Regions from separate parts of the Homo sapiens genome. Here region 1 is linked to region 2. Evidence: fine-mapped expression QTL. A gene starts in region 2. The other region holds a variant in brackets. All regions are shown on one strand. Distances are from middle to middle.

What was found. PIP is the estimated chance that this variant, and not a neighbour inherited with it, causes the effect.
Region 1: its variant is fine-mapped to the expression of FARSA-AS1 in lymphoblastoid cells (GENCORD, PIP 0.92).

The regions. Positions count from the first base shown.
Region 1 is chr19:13,370,971-13,376,343 of GRCh38, reverse strand. It overlaps CACNA1A (calcium voltage-gated channel subunit alpha1 A), which reads left to right. Exons shown (of 47, transcript NM_001127222.2): 4 at 4,565-4,656. Among named protein-coding and RNA genes, the nearest start is that of CACNA1A, 130 kb to the left of the region's middle. The variant T/C (reference allele first, on the strand shown) is at 2,589.
Region 2 is chr19:12,927,448-12,932,820 of GRCh38, reverse strand. FARSA-AS1 (FARSA antisense RNA 1) reads right to left here and starts at 2,299. Exons shown (of 3, transcript NR_149078.1): 1 at 2,275-2,299. It overlaps FARSA (phenylalanyl-tRNA synthetase subunit alpha), which reads left to right. Exons shown (of 13, transcript NM_004461.3): 2 at 2,072-2,209; 3 at 2,294-2,392; 4 at 2,480-2,598; 5 at 3,974-4,066; 6 at 4,158-4,286; 7 at 4,364-4,479.

The DNA.
Region 1 (5,373 bases), 440 kb before region 2:
TCCTAACAAGAGAGTCAGCCTGTCCTTTGAAGCTTTGAAGCCAGGCATTGACTTCTCCTCTCTAGCTATGAAAGTCCTAGATGGCAACTTCTTCCAATAGGGCATTTCATCTACATTAAAAATCTATTATTCAGTGTTGCCAGCTTCATTAATAATCTCAGCTAGATCTTCTGGATAACTTACTGCAGCTTCTCCATCAGCACTTATCACTTCACCTTGCACTTTTATATTATGGGGACACCTTCTTTCCTTAAACCTCATGAACCAAGATCTTCTAGCTTCAGATTTTTCTTCTGCACTTCCCCACCTCTCTCAGTCTTGCTGTGGGCTTGCTGTGGATTAGGCTTTGGCTTAAGGGAATGTTGTGGCTGGTTTGATCTTCTATCCAGACCACTAAAACTTTCTCCATGTCAGCAAGAAGCCTGTCTTACTTTCTTATCATTCATGTGTTTACTAGAGTAGCCCTTTTAATTTCCTTCAGTAATTTTTCCTTTGCATTCACAACTTGGCTAACCTCTAGCTTATGGCCTTTTGTTTGTTTGTTTGTTTTGTTTTTGAGACAGGGTCTCACTCCGTTGCCCAGGCTGGAGTGCAGTGGTGCAATCACCGCTCACTGCAGCCTTGACTTCCTGGGACCAAGTGATCCTCCCACCTCAGCCTCCTAAGTAGCTGAGACCACAGGTGTGCACCACCACACCCAGCTAATTTTTTTATTTTCTGTAGAGATAGGGTCTCCCTATTTTGCCCAAGCTAGTCTCAAACTCCTAGGCTCAAGCCATCCTCTCACCTCAGCCTCCCAAAATGCTCGGATTACAGGCATGAGCCACCATCCCTGGCCCTATCTCAGCTTTTGACACGCCTTCCTCACTGTGTTTAATCATTTCTAGCTTTTAATTTAAAGTGAGAGACGTGCAACTCTTCTTTTCACTTGAGCACTTAAAGGCCATTGTACAGTTATACACTGACCTAATTTCAATATTGTTATGTCTCGGGGAATAGGAAGGCCCAAGGAAAGCGGGAGAGATGGGGAAATGGCCAGTTGGTAGAGCAGTCAGAACACACACAATATTTATCGATCAAGTTTGCCATCTTCTATGGATGTGGTTCGTGGCACCCCCAAACAATGACTATAGTCACATCAAAGATCACTGATCACAGACCACCATAACAGATGTAATAATTATGTAAAAGTTTGAAATACCGTAAGAATTACCAGAGTGTGACACAGAGACGCAAAGTGAGCACACGCTGTTGGAAAAAAAATGGCCCTGATAGACCTCCTTGACACAGGGTTGCCACAAATCTTCAATTTGTAAGAAACACAATATCTACAAATTGCAATAAAGCAAAGCACAATGAAATGAAGTCTTCCTCGGCCGGTGTGGTGGCTCACGTCCATAATCCCAGCACTTTGGGAGGCCAAGGCAAGAGGATCCCTTGAGCCCAGGAGTTGGAGGCCAGCCTGGGCAACACAGGGAGACTCCATCTCTAGAACAAAACAAAACAAAGCCTGCTTATATTTATTGGGTTTACTCTCAGTCTCCCCCACACAGAGATAGGGCCTGGCTTGTTATTAGTGCTCAGTTGATGTTTGTGAAGTGAAATACTAAGGACTTAACCACTGCCTGTTCTTTGCTGTTCATGCCCTGACAGCTTTTATGTGCCAGCACAGAAGAAAACAAGGTGCAAGAAGAGAATAGTGATCTCTAAGTCAGAATTTGAGGAACCCAAATTAGTACCAGAAAGCTGGGAGGAGAAGAGAAAAATAAAGTAAATCAAATTAAAAGTTGAATGGGCCAAGTGCAGTAGCTCATACCTATAATCCCAGCACTTTGGGAGGCTGAGGTGAGAGGATCACTTGAGGCCAGGAGTTCTAGACCAGCCTGGGCAATATAGCAAGACCCCATCTCTACAAAAAAAATTTTTTAATTTTCTGAATATGTTGTTGTACACCTGTAGTCCCAGCTGCTTAGGAGGCAGAGGTGGGAGGATCGCTTGAGCCCAGGAGGTTGAGGCTGCAGTGAGCTGTTGTTGCACCACTATACTCAAGCCTGGGTGACAGAATAAGTCCCTGTCTCCAAAAATAAAAATAAATAAATTCATTTTTTGTAAAGTTGTATGTCATGGCCCCTGCCTACTCTGGCTTCATGACTTGCTGCTTGAACCTCACCATCCAAATCCCAGTGGTGACACCATGTCATTTCTTGAATTTGCCAAGCCCTCTTTCAGTCCCAAGCTCTCTGTCATGGCCACTCTCAGCCTGGAAAGTTCTTTCCCCACTGGCCAGATTTCTCCCCCTCATCTATGGGAACTTGACTTGAAGTAGGGGGTATCCCAGGCCCTGGACTAGTTAACACGACCTGCTGTGTGCCCCTCAAAGCCATTGTCTTCCTAGCTGAGAAGGCATCACACCTGCAACAGATTCACTCATTGTGTGCATGTTTTTCTTAACCACTTCTCTTCTGCATCAGCTCCATGGGGCAGGGATAGTCTCATATGTCACTCTACCCAGCACATAGGATACGCTCAGACGCCCACTTGTGGATGGTGGAAAAGGTCAGCCCAACCTAATATGCCCATCTCTCCTC[T/C]AGGGGTAATCTTGAGAAAAAAAGTTGGGAACTTGCTTTGTGTTAGTTTAGGATGACCCAGAATAGATCCTGAAACAAGAATTTAGGGCAATCCTTGTGCAAGTAGTTCATCTGAGAGGTGACCCCAGAAGGGTTGGAGAAGGAGAGGGGAGGTGGGGCAAGGAAGGGTGAGTTGTCCTGTAGGCAACTGAGCTCCGTCCTACTGGGAGCCCACGTGGAACTCACCTCTTAAGTGATCCAGAATGAAGGGTGAGGGAGCTGCGGTATTGATCCACCAACTCCCAGCAATCTTTGGTTGAGGGCTGCTCCCTTAAAGTTCATTCCCTGGGCCTGCCCCAGATTTGGAGACAGCCCTAAGGCAAGAGGTACAGATACCAGTTGGCCACAGACTGAAGTGTTAAGACCCAAGCCCCTGGATAAAACTGAAAAATCAAGCCAGATGTGGTGGTTCCCACCTGTAATCCCAGCTACTCAGTAGGCTAAGGCAGGAGGATTGCTTGAGCCCAGGAGTTCAATGCTGTAGCGAGCTATGATTGCACCACTGCATTCCAGCCTGGGCATCAGAGCAAGACCCCATGTCTAAAATAAAAATAAACTGAAAAATCCCCAAGTTATTTGCTGTGACCAACCTTCCATTAACCACAGACCCTCTGGTATTCAGCATTTCTTGTCCATTATATGAAGTTCTGATGACAGTCTCTTTTATTGTATTGTGCCTTGACCACGCACTGTACATCACTTAGCTCTGAAATGGACATGTTCAGGAAACAGGGCCAGGTGGGACCCTGTGTTTCAACAGCAATACTTTTACAAATGAGGTCTCATGACAGGGTCTTGCTCGGAGGGTTTCTATGGAAGCCTCATCCCACCTACTGCTATCATCCTTACTAACTTGCATTTACAAAAGGGACTCTTTTTGACCAGAGGCTTGGGGTCTGTAGCTGCCTTCTAGCCAGCTGATGCTGGCTGGTCCACACAAGCAGGATCACACCCATTTTTTTGTTTTCTTATTTATTTCTGAATAGGTTAGCATACCGGTAACCTGTGTGCCTGGCATTGTGCTGACCACTTTTTGTCAACTTACTGAATCCTCACAACCCTTGGAGGTATTGATACTATTGTTATCCAGGTTATACAAAAGGGGGAAACTGAGGCACAGAGCAGGGATGTCCCTTGCCCAAGGTTACCCAACTGGAAAGTGGCAGATCTGGGATCTGAACCCATGCAGGCTGGGCTCTTAACACTGAACTACTTTCCTGCCATTTGTTAAAGAGCCACAAACCAGGCCAGGCACCATGGCTCACGCCTGTAATCCCAGCACTTTGGGAGGCCGAGGCGGGTGGATCACCTGAGGTCAGGAGTTCAAGACCAGCCTGGCCAACATGGTGAAACCCTGTCTCTACAAAAATACAAAAAAAAGTACCCGGGCATGATGGCGGGTGCGTAGTAATCCCAGCTACTCGGGAGGCTGAGGCAGGAGAATCCCTTGAACCCGGGAGGCAGAGGTTGCAGTGAGCTGAGATCACACCATTGGAGATCGCACTCCAGCCTGGGCAACAGAGTGAGACTCTGTCTCAAAAAAATAAAATAAAATAAAATAAAGAGCCACAAACCCCGAAAGGTCTGCCATTCCCCCAGGGCCCCAGGCCACCCCACAATCTATTGTCATTGTAGGTTGTGAAATATACTGAATGTCACCCCAACCTTGAGCCATGGGGAAGATTCCATTTCTCTCATTGCAACATTTGTGCAACATGAACCATCTGTTGGGGGTCTTCGTAAATCACCTTTTATCCCGTGAGGCAGGTACTGTTAAGACCATTTTACAGGTGACAAAACTGAGGCCAGTGGTGTCGAGTCACCTGCCTGTGGTCACCCAACCAATACAGGACAGCTTGGAATCCCAAGCACCCCCGCCCTGCTGTCTGACCCCCAAAACCCACCCTCTGTTCTCCATTCTGGCTTCTTTCTTTCAGCATCTTGGCGACAGTTGGGACGGAGTTTGACCTACGGACGCTGAGGGCAGTTCGAGTGCTGCGGCCGCTCAAGCTGGTGTCTGGAATCCCAAGTGCGTGAGTTTCCGACCCTGACAAGGGGTTTGCTCACGGGCCCCAGGAGCCCTCAGTTTCCCCTATGCAGAGCATCTCAGGAGGCCACATCCTGCCACCAGCCTGTGTGAGGGCAGTCTCTTCTTTGGGACTCCCTATAGGGAACCCCCTAGGAATATGACTGTAGCTCCCCATGAGCTCCTGAAAGCAAACTAGGAGCCACACCCATTTATTGAGCACCTACTGTCTATCGGGAGCCATGCTAAGCACCACGTGTGATCTCATTCAGTACTCACAGCCCTATGAAGTTGATAGGACTGATGTCTCTATTTTATGGAGGGGGAAACTGAGGCTCAGAGTGGCTGAAACATTGGAGCAGGGTTTTGTGGCTGAGAAGTGGCAGAACTAGGAGTGAGCAAGTGTGACTCCAAGCCTGGGCCGTACCACTGGTGGCAATGACCATTCCCATTTAATGAGTGCCTGCTGCGTGCAGGGCACTACAGAAGGACTTTACATGAATTACCTTATTTCATCCTCACAGTCACCCAGCGAACACCCATTTTACAGATGAGACGGTTGAGGCTTAAGGAGGTTAAATTACTCACCTGAATTCTTAGAGTGGACAGTAATGAGCTCTAAAATTCATACTCATTCCTTGCTGCTTTCTCATTCTCCACAGATACATCTAGTCCCCGTTTAAGGGTGGCTGCCATATGCAGGGTCAAGATTAAGTGTAG
Region 2 (5,373 bases):
GCGCACAGATGAAGTCCAGCCTTCTGACTTGGGCAAGTGGACAGTGACAGAGTCACAGGCGTAGGATGCTGAGGGGCCCGTGGGCCACCCAGAAGGCTAGATCCATGGGGCCAGGATCTGGGCTGTTTATCCGTAGAGCTCATGTTCTGTGCCCCACTTTGGTCTCAGCTTGTTTGTCCAATCCATTCCATAATCCTGGCTGATGGCCATGTTATTCCCATTTTGCAGATGTGACAACTGATGGTCAGTAACATAATCAGTGTGAATAGAAGAGGCCGATGAGCCCAGATTTGAAATTAGGCACTCAGGCTGCAGAGCCCATAGTCCTCAATGCAGAGGAGAGATGGCAGCTGTGTTGTGTGGGGTGACAGTGCCTTGACCAATATGATCTGACATTTGTATACGTCACAGAGGGTTAAATAATATAAGGAGGTGAGGTTCAATCTAATGACAGTAATAGCCATAAAAATAATTATAGTAATTAGAATTTATGCCGGGTGCAGTGGTCACACCTGTAATCCCAGCACTTTGGGAGACCAAGGCGGGTGGATCACGAGGTCAGGAGTTCAAGACCAGCCTGGCCAAGATGATGAAACCCTGTCTCTACTAAAAATACAAAAAAAAATTAGCCAGGCGTGTTGGTGGGCACCCGTAATCCCAGCTACTTGGGAGGCTGAGGCAGAGAATTGTTTGAATCGGGAGGTGGAGGTTGCAGTGAGCCGAGATCGCACTCCAGCCTGGGCGACAGAGCGAGACTCCGTCTCAAAAAAAAAAAAAAAAAAAATTTATGCAGTGTTTGTCACGTGGTAGGCACTATATATTCTTTCTGAGTATTAATTTAGCTACTCCTTAAAATCATCTGAGGTAGAACCCATCACACCTTTCTCTTATGGATGAGAAGAGTCACTGAGAGGTTAAGCAACTTTCCTGAGGTCACACAGTAAGTGAAGGGCAGAGTTGGGATTAGAATGAAGTGGGAGCCAGGCCCTGTGCACTCTACTTACCCTTGTTGTCCTTGTCTTCATGACTCTGGACCTGGAACCTCAGTTTTTGTTTGTAATGTGGACCTCCAGGGCCCGTCTCTGACATTCTGGGCACTGACATGTGAACATTTAAACATGGAGACAGGCTGGGTATGGTGGCTCATGCCCATTATGCCAGCACTTTGGGAGGCTGAGGAAGGAGAATCACTTGAGGCCAGGAGTTTGAGACCAGCCTGGACAACATAACAACACCCTGTCTTTAAAAAGTAATTTAAAGGGCCGGGCACGGCGGCTCACGCCTGTAATCCTAGCACTTTGGGAGGCGGAGTCGGCCGATTACGAGGTCAGGAGTTTGAGACCAGCCTGGCCAACATGGTGAAACCCCATCTCTACTAAAAATACAAAAATTAGCTGGGGGTGGTGGTGGGCACCTGTAATCCGAGCTACTCGGGAGGCTGAGGCAGGAGAATCATTTGAACCCGGGAGGCAGAGGTTGCAGTGAACCGAGATCGCACCATTGCACTCTAGCCTGAGCGACAGTGCAAGACTCCGTCTCAAAAAAAAAAAGTAATTTAAAAATTAACCAGGTGTGGCGGCACATGCCTGTAGTCCCAGCTACTCGGGACTGGCGGAAGGATCGCTTGAGCCCAGGAGGTCTAGGCTGCAGTGAGCTATGATCACACCACTGCACCCAGCCTAGTGACAGGGTGAGACCCCCTTTCAAAGAAAACAAAAACAAACAAAAAAATGTGGAGACATATCAGTTCACCTAATTTTTCACATTAAAATCTGTCACAGGTTCAAAACCGACAGAATTTGTCTTCTGCCAGGTAACATCTTTAGTGGTGTACTTTACCCTGGGAGGTGTAAACTATCATTATTACTACCCCTGTGTTACATAAGGGAAATGGAGACACAGCAAGGGGAAGTCTTTCCCTTGAGACCACTTGGCTGTAAAGTTGTATAGCTGGGATGTGAACCTAGCTTTAAGGGCTGTGCTTTCAACCTGGGACCCAGCGCTGCAGAAAGGGGGTGCCTGGCTCTGAGCCTCACCCCTGCCTGGACACCCTCCCCACATTTCCCTCTAGGTCATCGAGGCTGAACTTCGGTCCACCAAGCACTGGGAGCTTACTGCGGAGGGCGAGGAGATTGCCCGGGAGGGCAGCCATGAGGCCCGTGTGTTTCGAAGCATTCCCCCAGAGGGCCTGGCCCAGAGCGAGCTTATGGTAGGAGCTGCGGGGTGAATGGGGAGTGAGTGATGGGATGAAGGTGGCCCTCGTGCCCCACTCACTGCAGCCTCTCTTTTCCAGCGACTGCCCAGTGGCAAAGTGGGCTTCAGCAAGGCCATGTCCAACAAGTGGATTCGGGTGGACAAGAGTGCGGCTGACGGGCCCCGGGTGTTCCGAGTGGTGCGTTCCTGCGGGCTGGTCAGGGGGCAGGTGGACGGGCACATGGGCCCCTGGCCCTCATACCCCTCACACTCCTTATCCTGGCAGGTGGACAGCATGGAGGATGAGGTGCAGCGGCGGCTCCAGCTGGTCCGGGGGGGACAGGCTGAGAAGCTGGGGGAGAAGGAGAGGAGCGAGCTGAGGAAGAGGAAGCTGTTGGCTGAAGTGTGAGTGGGTGCCCCCTGCAGGCTCAGGCCCCCACCACCTGCGAAGCATGGTGGAGGCATGGTGGGAGGGAGACATCTTGCCCACACCAAGCACAGGTGTGGCCAGTTTCCTCCCAGCTCGCTTAATGCCATAGTTGTCAAGCCTACGTGCCTTGGGGTCTTTGCCCATGAGGACCCTTCTGCTGAGAACTGTTTTCCCTCTGATCTTCAAGATAGGCTCCTCATCAAGTCTCTCTCCTGTGTCCCCTTAAAGAGGCCACCCTGACAGCCCTCCTCTCCCCTTGAGTTCCATGAAGCCCATCGCCCCTAGTCTTCATCTTTGGTGCTTGTTCATTTCTTTCACTGTCCTTAGTGTGGTCCAAAGTTTAATGAACACACACCAGACAGGCCTCTGGAACCTAGATGGGCTAGGGGCCGTCCTCTCACAGGACAAATGTCCCCTTTGAGCAGACACAGAGTGGCAGAGAGAAGAGACTAGAGCTGGGATGCCTAACTGAAGTTCGGGCTCTGTCACTTAACTAGTTTTATGACCTTGGCCAAGTCACCTGGCCTTTGCTGGTCTCCGTTTCCTTATCTATAAAATAGCCTGGGCCAAGTGTGTGGCTCACGTGTGTAATCCCAGCTACTCAGGAGGCTGAAGTGTTAGGATCACTTGAATCCATGAATTCAAGGCCAGCCTGGGCAACATAGAGAGACCCCCATCTCAAAGAAAAAGGGGCCAGGCACGATGGCTCATGCCTGTAATCCCAGCACTTTGGGAGGCCGAGGCGGGCAAATCACCTGAGGTCAGGAGTTCGAGACCAGCCTGGCCAACATGGTGAAACCTCGTCTTTACTGAAAATACAAAACTTAGCCGGGTGTGGTGGCGGGTGCCTGTAATCCCAGCTACTCTGGAGGCTGAGGCAGGAGAATCGCTTGAATCTGGGAGGTGGAGGATGCAGTGAGCTGAGACCGTGCCATTGCACTCTAGCCTAGGCAACAAGAGCAAAACTCTGTCTCAAAAAAGGAAAACAAACAAACAAATAAAAAAAACTGCCCTCTTTCCGGGGCTTGTGGGGAGACTTTTGCAGAACAGAGCCTGGCACAGAATAAATCTGCTAGACTTTCCCTAGTATCATCACTCAGTCGTGTACTTAGCACCTTGAACAGACCCTGGCACACATTAGGTTCTCAGTAAGTGTTGAATGAATCAGTGAGTGAATACAGGGAGATACAGCATGGTCACATAGGAGGATTTCAGGTAGTGATAAATGTCAGGATGGAAATAAAGCAGAGTGACTTGGTAGGTAGCATGGGGATCCTCATCAGACGGGAGATCAAGGAAGTCCTCTAGGAGGAGATGGCAGTGGCGTCCCCTTCCTTCCCCTGGCCACAGGACTCTGAAGACCTACTGGGTGAGCAAAGGCAGTGCCTTTAGTACCAGCATCTCCAAGCAAGAGACAGAGCTGAGCCCAGAGATGATCTCCAGGTAGCAGGCAACCCCAGGGTCAGGGCAGGTGGGAGCTGGGGCAGGGGGCAGGGGCGGGCAGCCCTTACCAGGCCCTTGCATCCTCCCCCAGTGGCTCTTGGCGGGACCGGCCCTTCAAGCCCTACAACTTCTTGGCCCACGGTGTCCTCCCCGACAGCGGCCACCTTCACCCGCTGCTCAAGGTCCGCTCCCAGTTCCGACAGATCTTCCTGGAGATGGGGTGAGCACAGGGCTGGGGGCGGTGCCTGGTGCTTCTGCTGGGTACAGGCAGGGCAGTCAGGCTGTGTCTCCCACCAGGTTCACCGAGATGCCGACTGATAACTTCATTGAGAGCTCCTTCTGGAACTTTGACGCCCTCTTCCAGCCCCAGCAGCACCCAGCCCGTGACCAGCACGACACCTTCTTCCTTCGAGGTGGGTCAGCCCCTAGGGCCTCCCTGAGACATGAGAGACACCAGGCCACGGCGGAGCCTTTACAGGATGGGCATCCCATTTGATCAAATTAGGTCTAGAACTGGGCATGGTGGTGTGCACCTGTAGTCCGGCTATTTGGGAGGCCAAGGCAGGAGGATTGCATGAGCCCAGGAGTTCAAATCCAGCTCAGGCAACATAGGGAAGAATCTACCTCTAAAAAAATTAATTGAGTTAAATTAAAGTCCATCCTTGTTGGATGTGTCAAGCTCTGTTCTCATTATGCCACCTGCAGTCTTTTTTTTTTTTTTTTTTTTTTTTGAGACAGGGTCTCACTCTGTCGCCCAAGCTGGAGTGTGCAGTGGCATGATCTTGGCTCGCTGCAAACTTTGCCTCCCAGGTTCAAGCGATTCTCCTGCCTCAGCCTCCCGAGTAGCTGGGATTACAGGTGCATACCACCATGCCCAGCTAATTTTTGTATTTTTAGTAGAGATGGAGTTTTGCCATGTTGGCCAGGGTGGTCTCAAACTCCAGTCTGCCTCGGCCTCCCAAAGTGCTGGGATTACAGGCGTGAGCCACCGCACCTGGCTTTTTTTTTTTTTTTTTTTTTTTTTTGAGACAGTCTCATTCTGTCGCCCAAGCTAGAGTGCAGTGGCACGATCTCAGCTCACTGCAATTTCCACCTCCTGGGTTCAAGCGATTCTCCTGCCTCAGCCTCCTGAGTAGCTGGGATTACAGGCACCCGCCACCACGCTCGGCTAATTTTTGTGTTTTTAATAGAGATGGGGTTTGCCATGTTGGCCAGGCTGGTCTGGAACTCCTGACCTCAAGTGATACTCCCGCCTCAGCCTCCCAAAGTGCTAGGATTACAGGCGTGAGCACCACGCCTAGCCCAAA